Homo sapiens: one gene and its partners. The protein of the gene in region 3 purifies or fractionates together with the protein of the main gene of each other region. This does not show direct contact. Each region holds a gene or a part of one and is shown on either strand. Other genes may lie near its edges. The genes, in order: AFG3L2, RNF123 and MAP3K6.

The links.
Region 1: the proteins of MAP3K6 (region 3) and AFG3L2 purify together in Homo sapiens (affinity purification with mass spectrometry, with the first as the bait; one large-scale study listed by BioGRID). This does not show direct contact.
Region 2: the proteins of MAP3K6 (region 3) and RNF123 purify together in Homo sapiens (affinity purification with mass spectrometry; 2 studies listed by BioGRID and IntAct, with this or other methods). This does not show direct contact.

What each region holds. Positions count from the first base shown.
Region 1 is NC_000018.10:12,346,211-12,349,856, forward strand, and holds part of AFG3L2 (mitochondrial inner membrane m-AAA protease component AFG3L2), read right to left. Parts: intron 2,174-3,646; coding exon 2,063-2,173; intron 1-2,062. UniProt on the Homo sapiens protein: Catalytic component of the m-AAA protease, a protease that plays a key role in proteostasis of inner mitochondrial membrane proteins, and which is essential for axonal and neuron development.
Region 2 is NC_000003.12:49,695,994-49,699,639, forward strand, and holds part of RNF123 (E3 ubiquitin-protein ligase RNF123), read left to right. Parts: intron 1-1,149; coding exon 1,150-1,229; intron 1,230-1,369; coding exon 1,370-1,464; intron 1,465-1,891; coding exon 1,892-1,946; intron 1,947-2,058; coding exon 2,059-2,144; intron 2,145-2,446; coding exon 2,447-2,533; intron 2,534-2,761; coding exon 2,762-2,829; intron 2,830-2,986; coding exon 2,987-3,112; intron 3,113-3,474; coding exon 3,475-3,589; intron 3,590-3,646. UniProt on the Homo sapiens protein: Catalytic subunit of the KPC complex that acts as E3 ubiquitin-protein ligase. Promotes the ubiquitination and proteasome-mediated degradation of CDKN1B which is the cyclin-dependent kinase inhibitor at the G0-G1 transition of the cell cycle.
Region 3 is NC_000001.11:27,356,856-27,360,501, forward strand, and holds part of MAP3K6 (mitogen-activated protein kinase kinase kinase 6), read right to left. Parts: intron 3,514-3,646; coding exon 3,386-3,513; intron 3,140-3,385; coding exon 3,003-3,139; intron 2,705-3,002; coding exon of another isoform or gene 2,668-2,704; coding exon 2,562-2,667; intron 2,012-2,561; coding exon 1,854-2,011; intron 1,757-1,853; coding exon 1,564-1,756; intron 1,465-1,563; coding exon 1,326-1,464; intron 1,042-1,325; coding exon of another isoform or gene 1,022-1,041; coding exon 856-1,021; intron 722-855; coding exon 545-721; intron 260-544; coding exon 154-259; intron 1-153. UniProt on the Homo sapiens protein: Component of a protein kinase signal transduction cascade. Activates the JNK, but not ERK or p38 kinase pathways.

The DNA of each region.
Region 1 (3,646 bases), on a different chromosome or scaffold from region 3:
GCTGACTCACCTTTCTCTCCTCTTACCAAATGTGAGCACTGGGTAACATTTCCTCTGCAACTCCCTCTCTCCCAGGAGGGTGGCTCCAAGTGTCCCCAACCGCCCATCTCACTCCACCTGGCACACCCTGGGACCACCACTGCCTGTTCCCAAGTCACACACGCATACCCCTGCCCCGGCTCACATGCAGGACAGCTCATTCTCTACGAGCCAGCTGCCTCTGCAAGCGCCCCACACTCCTGCGGTCTCTCAGTCTGTCCTCATTTTTTTTACGGCTGTCACTGGTGCTCCCCCCTGATAAGCTGTGGGCTCATGGTGCTCACAGTGATGACTGCAAGGTTCTCTGCCTCCATCCAGAGGCTTCCCTACTCTTCAAAGCCAGATTCATTCTCCTAAAATACCATCGATCATTATGTTACTCAGTGGCTCACGCCTGTAATCCGAACACTTTGGGAGGCCGAGGCAGGCAGATCACCTGAGGTCAGGAGTTCGAGATCAGCCTGGCCAACATGGTGAAACCCCATCTCTACTAAAAATACAAAAATTAGCCAGGCGTGGTGGCACGCACCTGTAATCCCAGCTGTTTGGGAGGCTGAGGGAGGAGAATTGCTTGAACTCGGAAGGTGGAGGTTGCAGTGAGCCAAGATCAAGCCACTGCACTTCAGCCTGGGGGAGAGGGCAAGACTCCATCTCAAAAAAAAAAAAAAAAAAAAAAAAGGAGTTAGAGACCAGCCTGGCCAACGTGGTGAAACCCCATCTCTACTAAAAGTACAAAAATTAGCCGGGCATGGTGGCAGGTGCCTGTAATAGCAGCTACTCGGAAAGCTGTTTATTTGAACCCTGGAGGTGGAGGTTGCAGTGAGCCGAGATTGTGCCACTGCACCCCAGCCTGGGTGACAGAATGAGACTCTGTCTCAAAAAACAAAAAAACAAAACAAAACAACAACAACAAAAAACCCACCTTAATTCAACACTGGCCATAGGACAAAATTTTAAAAGTCTTTGAGCTTAACATTCAAGACTTTCCAAAACTGACCAGTTTACTCTCCCTCAACACAGGGTAGACTGCCTCAAGTCCATCTGCCAGGCCACTTCCACGTCACACCCCAGTTTCATCCTGAGCCTGGGGCACACCCCTCCTCTTCCGTGGAACTCTGCCTGGTGCAGGGCTTCCCCTTCCTTTGAATGCCCAAGTTCTTGAATTGCTACTTGCCTTTAGGGATTAAATCAGAAGCCCTATGGAATGCTAAGAAAACGCACTGTGTGCGCTCCCCCTATGCTGACTGAGGAAGCACTTCCAGCTCTACGCCTGTTACAGTTATTTTATTTTATTTATTATTATTATTTTTTTTTTTTTTGAGACAGAGACTTACTCTGCTGCCCAGGCTGGAATGCAGTGGCACGATCTCGGCTCACCATAACCTCTGCCTCCCGGGTTCAAGCGATTCTCCTGCCTCAGCCTCCCAAGTAGCTGAGACTTCAAGTACGAGCCACCATGCCTGGCTAATCTTTGTATTTTTAGTAGAGATGGGGTTTCACTATGTTAGCCAGGCTGGTCTCAAACTCCTGACCTTGTGATCTGCCTGCCTCGGCCTCCCAAAGTGCTGGGATTACAGGCGTGAGCCACCGCACCCGGCTGTTACAGATATTTTACACCCATCACCTGTATCTAGCACAGAGCACCTCTAACTCATGTGATGAAACTTTTGTAAACAGGAAGGTTGTGAGCTTTTTAACAAACTTGATTGGTATAGTTCATGGGTAGACACCTCGCTGCTGGCTGCCTGTGCAAGCAAAGCATTCGTGAGCTGCCATCTCAAACTCACCCAGCACCATGGACCTCCATGCAGAGGGCAGGTGGCAGGGGACGGTGGCAGGAAGAAGGAGGAGAGGGAGGAGAGGCATGGGAGGGGCCATGACACCAAGAGAGCACAAATGTGGTGGGCCCCAGGGCTGAGTGGATACACTTTCTTTGCTTCTAGTTCTTGCCCAAACAGAGAAATCCCTGGCCTCAAATTCATTTTATCAGCCTTTCCACTTGAGTTATGTTCAGTTTCCTTACCACCAATCACTCGTTCAATTGCCTGTTCAAAGTGTTTCTGATTTATGGAATCTGACAGATGCCTTGCAGCAATCAACGCAGCTTCATTACAGACATTAGCAACATCAGCACCTAAAAAATGAACACAGAACAGCTTACCCACCGAAATACGCCCAAACTGATCAGTCACACAATATGGACAGCCAAATCCATAGTTAATTTTTAAATCAGCAGTACAATGAATAAAGGTTTTGTGTAAATATAATTCTGTTTTGACTCATGATAACCCTAAGCTATTCTAGCGTTTAATGTAAGCCTGGTATAATTCTGGCCCTCTGAACTAAGATGAAAGTATTAGTAGTCAATAGATAATTACAGGCAACTATTTACCTTAATAGACAATATAGCTCACATAATAGCAAACTAAGACAGCATCTAAAAATGCTCATTTAAATAACTTAGTTCTATCACCTGTGTTGGAAAAATGGCTTGCATAGATATTAGGTGAAGTACTGATATATGATGAAAAATCTAATTTTTATAATCACCTAGTACATTCAGTGAAACAACTAAATTTAAATATAGCTAAAAGCTTGTCAAATGCTTTTTAGATCCATCTCTTTAAACTAACTTTTCAGTTAAGTATATGGTAGCATAAATAAGCTACAGCATACCATCTGTGTTAAATAAACAAATATTAAAACATTATAAATTTCAAAGTCCAAAGACAAGTAAAAAGTTAGGATCCCTGGAACAAGATGATCATCTTCTGACCACACTATTGTATATAATCTTTTCATACTTCTCAAACTGTTCTTTTTTTATTTCATTTTGCGTTCAGAAGGAGAGAAATAGGGAATGGGAAAGGATCATATTTTACATTAAAAAATTATTGGAATAAGCACATGAAAAGATGCTCAACATCACTAGTCATTAGAGAAGTGCAAATCAAAACAACAGTGAGATGCCAAATCACACCAGCTAGGATGGCTGTAATAAAAAGACAGTGACGAGTGCTGGCAAGGATGTGGAGAAACTGGGACCCTCACAGGTTACTGGTGGGAATGTAAAATGGCACAGGTAATTAAAACAACCTGGCAGTTCCTCAAAAAGTTAGAGTTACCATATCACCCAGCAATTCCACTCCTAGGTATATACCAAGAGAAACACTATGACCACAAAAAATCTGTACACCGATGTTCATGGCAGCATTATTCATAATAGCCAAAAAGTGGAAACAGCCCAAATGGCCATCAACTGATGGGTGGATCAACAAGATGTGGAACAGCCAAACAATGGCACATTTACTTGGCCACAAAAAGGAATGAAGTTCTGATGCCTGCCACAATTTGAATCAATCCTGTTCATTATGTTAAGTGAACATAAACCAGGCACAAAAGACCACATGTTTTTATTTTTATTTTTTTGAGGTGGAGTTTTGCTCTTGTCACCCAGGCTGGAGTGCAATGGCGTGATCTCAGCTCACTGCAACCTCCACCTCCCAGGTTCAAGCGATTCTCCTGCTTCAGCCTCCCGAGTAGCTGGGATTACAGCACCCCCACCACCACGCCCGGCAATTTTTGTATTTTTAGTAGAGACAGGGTT
Region 2 (3,646 bases), on a different chromosome or scaffold from region 3:
ACAGGACAGAGCCATCCAGCAGCTCAGAGGGCTGAGCCTTTCATACTTCCAGAACATGTCCCATTCAACACAGACTCCCCTGGCTGGGTGGTGGCGAGACTGGAATCTGCCCCAAAGGAACCACAGGCCTAGGGGCAAGGGTTGGACTAGGTGGCCTTGGTACTGACCACTTTGGGAACCAGCATTTCTCCCAGCCTTCTTCTTCCAGACATCATCAGCACAGCCACCTTTGAGAGCGGACAGGTTATGTGCTATGCAGACAGCACTTGTTATTCCCTGGGCTCTTCACAGCATCTCTAACATAAGTCACTATTCTGTTTTTACAGATGAAGGAATTAAGACTTAGAGAGGGCTACTTTTTTTTTTTTTTTTTGAGACAGAGTCTTGCTCTGTCACCCAGACTAGAGTGCAGTGGCACGATCATGGCTCACTGCAACCTCCGCCTCCCAGGTTCAAGCAATTCTCCTGCCTCCGCCTCCCAAGTAGCTGGTATTACAGGCACATGCCACCGCGCCCAGCATTTTTAGTAGAGTCGCAATTTCACCATGTTGGCCAGGCTGGTCTTGAACTACTGACCTCGTGATCTGCCCGCCTCAGCCTCCCAAAGTGCTGGGATTACAGGCATGAGCCACCGCACCTGGCCACATACTTTTTTTTTTTTTTTTTTTGAGACAGAGTCTTACTCTTGTTGCCCGGGCTGAAGTACAATGACACGATCTTGGCTTACTACAACCTCTGCCCCACCAAGGTTCAAGCTATTCTCCTGCCTCTGTCTCCCGAGTAGCTGGGATTATACGCATGCGCCACCACACTCAGCTAATTTTTGTATTTTTAGTAGGGATGGGGTTTCACCATGTGGCCAGGCTGGTCTCGAACTCCTGACCTCAGGTGATCTGCCCGCCTCGGCCTCCCAAAGTGCTGGGATTACAGGCATGGGCCACCACACCCGGCCTGGACTGGTTATACTTTTGAGTTTAGTGGAGAATTCGGCCTTCTGACCTCCTGCATGCCAGAGTCTAGGACTAGGCACAGCCCTTTTTCTGGAGTCTAGGCAGCCCCCCTGTGAGCTCAGGGGAAAGGATGGGATTTAGTGTCATCTGGCTGATTTCAAGGACTTGTGGACCCCTGGCAGCCTCTCACTCTCCCCAGGAAACCCCTGAACTTCCAGAACCTGCCAGAACATTTGGACCAGTTGCTACAGGTGGACAATGAGGAGGAGGAAAGCCAGGGTATGTGGCCACCTCTGGAGTGGGGTTGGGAGGTGCAGAGCTGGGACGTAGCGGGCCTGGAGACGTCTGGTGAGCTCAGGACACCCTATGCATCCTGTCAAATGCTCCACCCTGCCTGACCCCACCTCTCCTCTTTTCAGGACAGGTTGAAGGGCGGCTTGGCCCATCCACTGTGGTCCTGGACCACACAGGCGGCTTTGAGGGGCTTCTCCTGGTGGATGATGACCTGCTGGGGGTGAGTGAGGGTGAGGTGTGGAGACCCAGGTCCAGCCCCTTCTGACATAGCCCCAGGCTCCTCCTGATGTGGCCCTAGTCTCTCTACTCATCTGATGGGGCTGCAGCCAAAACTTGTCCTGACGTGGCCCCAGACCATTGTGTTCTCAGTCCTCAAACTCTCCCACTAAAGCCCTGAAACAGTCTTGATGTGGACTCAGCCCCCAGCCCTTCCCAGCACAGCCCTGAGTCCCTCTCTCATCCTGCCTTGGCCCAGGATCCTTCCTGATACAAGCCTACCCGCTCCCACCGTCCTCAGGCACAGTGCAGTGTTGGCCGCCACAGGCAAATACCACCAGGGCTGGCTCAGTTGGGGATGGGGTCTTTTTCCCTTGGGGAGATGCTCTGTGTGCCTGGGAGCTAGCCCACCACCCCTCTTCTTCACCCAGGTGATTGGACACAGCAACTTTGGCACCATCCGCTCTACCACATGCGTGTACAAAGGTGAGACCTTACCCTGCTGTGGCCTAGGTAGTGAGGAGAAAGTTTAAGGGCCCAGGCATGAGGCAAGAGGCAGTCTTTGTCCACCTCGTGGCCCTAACTCAGCTCTTTCCAGGGAAATGGCTCTACGAGGTCCTCATCTCCTCCCAGGGGCTCATGCAGATCGGCTGGTGCACCATCAGCTGCCGCTTCAACCAGGAGGTACACGTTGGGGAGGGGACCCCTCCCTGGGCCCAGGGAGAGCTTCTCCTGCCACAGGCCTCATCAGGTCTCCAGATCCCCTCAGAACTGCCTAGGACCCTAACTAACCTGGACTGCCCTCTGGAGAAGAAACGTGTCCCACCCAATCCCAGGCACCCCAGCTCAGAGAATACCTCTTACTCTTTCCCTCAGATCATCTGTTCCCTTCTGTAGAGCCATATGCATCCAAGGCTGGTGATTGGTGGGCTCTGGCCCAGACCCTGCCTGCCTCACCAGGGACCTCATAGGCATTTCCTCCCTAGGAGGGGGTTGGAGATACACACAACTCCTATGCCTATGATGGCAACCGCGTGCGCAAGTGGAATGTGACCACAACGAATTATGGCAAGGTGAGAGCCAAGCCCCTGTGGGTCATCCGCCCCATGACTGTTACTACAGCTTATTTGGAGCCACTGGGCAGCCATAAGGGACTACAGGGCACCAGGGAAGGGTCAGGGACCCAGGTCCTTTGTCCTTGTGGCTAGTCTCCCTTGGGTGGTTCTGGAAACGCAGCTGGGGTTCAGAGTCAGCAGGCTGCTGGGCTTCTGTGCATCTGGTGAGGCCTCCTCTCATGGCAGGCGTGGGCAGCGGGGGACATCGTGAGCTGCCTGATTGACCTGGATGATGGCACTCTGTCCTTCTGCCTGTGAGTTTCCTATCTCTATGCACAGGCCTGGCCCCTGGGGCCTCCCCAGACTGCCCCCAGTTTCCTGGGCCCTGTAAGGGGCCAGACTGAGTTTGATAGCCTGAGGGTGGGCAGCCACATGCTTAGCACTGGCTCACAGACCCACCCTTCTCCCCAGGAACGGTGTATCACTGGGCACTGCCTTTGAGAACCTGTCCAGGGGCCTGGGTATGGCCTACTTCCCAGCCATCAGCCTCTCTTTCAAGGAGTCCGTGGCCTTCAACTTTGGCAGCCGTCCTCTGCGATATCATTTTGTGAAGATGGCTGTGGGCTGCTCAGAAGCTCTTGGGGAGGCTGGGATGAGGGGCTCCCTACCCCAGGGGTGCCATGGGCTGGTGGCAGGCCCTGGCTGCTGCAGAGTTAGTGGGGGGCCATGTAGAGTGTCGAAGAAAACTTTCCTCGCAGCAGCCTGGTTGGTTGGGTGCCCTTGTCTCCACTGAACAGATGAGGAATGTGAAGCATCCTCCCTAGGGAGAATAAGTGGGCAAGTTGTGATGCAAACCAGCCCTGCCCTAGAGCCCAGGCCCCGGGGTGGGGGGTGGGCAGTGGAGAGGGAGTAGGCATGTCTGAGCCACAGATAAGGCGTTGCTGGCTTAACTCTGGCACCTACCCAGTGGCAGGCTACCGGCCCCTGCAGGACCCACCGAGTGCTGACCTGGTGCGGGCACAGAGGTTGCTGGGCTGCTTCCGGGCAGTGCTGAGTGTGGAGCTGGACCCTGTGGTGAGCTGGGGTCTGGGCCAGGCGGGGTGGGGGGCTTCCACAGCCTCCTGCCCCTCA
Region 3 (3,646 bases):
GTGCCGGTATGGGAGATGTCCATTTAGTCACGCCCCCACCGGCGCCTGCCTGCCCCTGTCCCGCCTGGCCCCCACCGGCCCCATTCGATGTTCACCGCGCCCAGCAAGCACCACACCCTCGCTGGCAGGAGGCCCGTGGCATTCCCCTCCTACCCGGTCCTAGCACACCCAGGGCTGCCCGCACAGCACGGCTGAGCAGTGAGTCCAGAACGAACATCCAGTGTGGACGGATCTGGCGCTTGCGGAGGATCTGCTTCACCTGCAGGGGGAGGGAGGCGCCGCTGAGACAGCTGAGCCTCAACTAGAGGCAGGGCTTGAGTTGGAAAGGCCTAGAAAGTCTTCGGCGGGAGGCGAGTGGGGTGGGCGGGCTTGAGGTCCAGGGAAGGCCTGGGAAGCTAGGACTGGGCAGACGGTTTTTTGCTGCAGGCCTGATCTTCACAGAGGAGACAGGGAATCTGGGAACGTCAAGTCCTGGCACCTCACCAGGCACGGGGAACTCACTACCTGTTGTTGGGCAGCTCTAACTACCAGAAGGCGCCCTCACCGCATCCGGGAAGGCAAACAGCGGTCTGTGCAGAAGCGCAGGCCCAAGGCCCTGGGCCCTCAGCCGTCCTTGCAGCGCCCGCAGCTCCTGGGCGAGCTGCCGGCGGTTGGGAGTGTGGATGTGTGCCCCGAGGCAGCGCAGCAGCTCTTCCACATGGTTTCTGCCCAGACGGGCCCCCTGAGAAGGAAGAGAGGGGTTGTCAGCGAGTGCTCCAGCCAAAAGAGACGCTGCCGCGGAGGTAGGGGGCGGGGACATCAACAGGTGTCCTGACCCTTTGCGACCACCAGGGGGCGCTAGAGTGGGCCGCCCACCTGCTCTTGCTTCTGCTCCTGGTGCAGATTCTCCGCCAGCGCTGGCAGCTCCTGCTCCAATACTGCGGCCAGCATGGCCCGACGCTTGCTCTCCTGGTGCAGCAGGCTCAGCCCCGAACTCTCCTCCGGAGACGCAGGCTCCTCGGCCGCAGGCTCCTCGGGCACCCTGGGCACAAGGGCGAGCTGCTGATTGAGGACGGGCAGCAACCGGCCAGTCACCTCTGTTGCCGGGTTTGAATCCTGGCTCTCCTACTTTTATGCCTACCTCACAGGCATGAACATAGATAAACCCCGCACTGAGAGGACACAACAAGTCCAAGTTAGAGTTGCCAGAACAGGGCATGGGGAGGCACCAAATGCCACATTCACAAGTGGTCAAGGTGCCCAGGTCCCCAGGGAGGGCTTTTGTAGGAGAGGAGAAAAAGGCAAAACCAGGCAAAAGGAACCCATCCCAGGAGCCTTGGTCTCACCGGAGCTGGCTGGTGCCCCCATAACTGAGGCAGCGCTTCGGGGGGCTGGGTGGGTGCTGAGAGGGTGCCTGAGGGCACGGGAATGTCTGAGACTGGGTGGTTGAGTTGGCTGAAGGAGTGGGACTGGCAGAAGGGGCATCTGAGGGAGGGACAGAGCCATCAGCTGGGCTCTCCTCCACCCTCACAGCTCCACAACTCCTCTGCCCTCCACTGTGCCCATCCCGCCACCCGCAAGCACCTGAGGGCCGTGGAGCATGTCGTGGGGAGCTGGGGCTGCGGCTCCTTTTCCCAGGCTGCAGGAAGGGGTCCCCCAGCAGTGTCTGGGCGCTGGCTCGGAGGCGGGGGTCTGGCTCAAAAGTTCGGAGGAGAAAGGCTTGGGCCTCGGCCGACAGAGAGCTGGGCATTGGCGGATGGACCTTGTACATACCCACCTGTGGGGGGAGGGTGAACAAGGGTGACATTCAGAGGTGTCCAAGGCCCAGGCTGGCCCTATGCCACTTCCATGGGCCAGGCCCAAAGAGGTCTCACCTGAAACATGGCAGCCTGTGGGCTCCCGAGCTCGTGGAAGGGGGGGCGACCTGTGGCCATCTCAATGACAGTGCAGCCCAGTGACCAGATGTCAGCTGCTTTCCCATACCCGCGTGGGCCCTGGTCAATGATTTCTGGGGCCATATACTGCAGAGTTCCTAGGACAGAAACAGGAGCACCAATGCCCATCTAGGCTTCATCATGGGGTTGGAGCAGGGAGGGGAATGCCGTCATCCTCAGGCCGACTGCACCCATACTGAACCTATCATCCAAAATATACCTCAACACCTATCCTGGTCATCAAACATCTATCCTGAGTTCCATCACCACCCTGGGCTCCATCGCCTGCCAAGGCTTCCGTCATTCATCCTGGGCTCCACCACATTCACAGACTCCATCACCCACAGTAGTGCTCCAGCACACATCCTGGATTGCCTCGTCCCCCTGAACTCCATCACCTGCTTTTTCCTCCAACTCCCACCTTGGCCTGCATCAACACTCCTCAAGTGCTAAAGTCAATTTCATCACTTCTCCAAGCTCCAGTTCCAGATGCCACCACCTCAGCCCTGGCCCAATCACTCACCCTGGGTTTCATTCCCCATTAGGACTCTAACTCCATGCCTAGGAGAAACCCCCTTCCCTGGAAAGTTCCAAGAGATCTTCTGCCCCAGGTCAGCATCCCCACTCACCACCCCCACACCTTGTTACCTGTGAAGGTCTCAGTGCAAGGTGTGATGCCTGCCAGCCGCTTGGAGGTGCCGAAGTCAGAAATCTTGAGCAGCCCACTGAAGGTGTTGATCAGCACATTGTCCCCCTGATTGACAGCCATTAGTGGACACTGGTCTGGGCCCCTGCCAGCAGAAGTAGACCCTCTTTCTGGGATCCCATCTCCTGGAGATCCCAGCCTGGTCCTGCCTCTGTCAACACTCTCCCCTTGCCATCCCACTTATATGCCCCTCTGGGAGCTGACAATTGGTTTGGCTTCAGAGCTGAACCTTTCCCCTCCTTCTCTAAGGAGCCTCCCTGATGAATTCCCTACCCTTTGCAACAGGTCTGCTCACTTAATCTAAACTGCCAGCCTGCGTCTGGGACCATGTTTCCTTCCCCGCCACCCTCAGCAGATGAGGGCGGGCCAGCCCCAGGGCTTACTTTTATGTCCCTGTGCACGATGTGGTTGTCGTGCAAGTAGCCAAGTCCCTGCAGGATCTGGCGGGTGTAGAAACTGATGGTGCTCTCGTTGTCCTTCAGGGGTCCCCACACCGACCGCAGCAAGGAGGACAGGCTGCCTGGGTGGGGACAGTCCAAGTTCATTCTTCCCACCCACTGGCTCCAGCCCACATCTCTCTGCTCAAGGCCCAGACACACCCATGTTGTAGCCCAACTCCATCACCCAGCGCCACTCCTCAGCTAATTCTAGGCTACACCACCCACACGCACTAGGGTGCATTTCCCCCTAGGGCTCTCTACCCCTGCCTGCCTCGGTCCCATGCTTCACACCTCGGTTTCATTCCCATCCCACACAGGGCAGGTACCTCCAGGCACTTCCTCCATGAAGATCTTAAGGTAGCCGCCCTGGCTAGCTGAGCCCAGATAGCGCACTATGTTCTTGTGGCGCAGGCGTCTGTGAAGAGCGATCTCTTCATGCAGGGGCTGAGAGAACCTGAGGGGAGGTAAGGGAGAGAGGAAAGGGACCGAGGTGGGCAGAGAAGCCCCGCCCATCCCACGCCAGCCTGGCCCCGCCCCAAGGACCCGCCCCGCCCACAAGCCCTCTCCGACCTTCCCCACCCTTACTA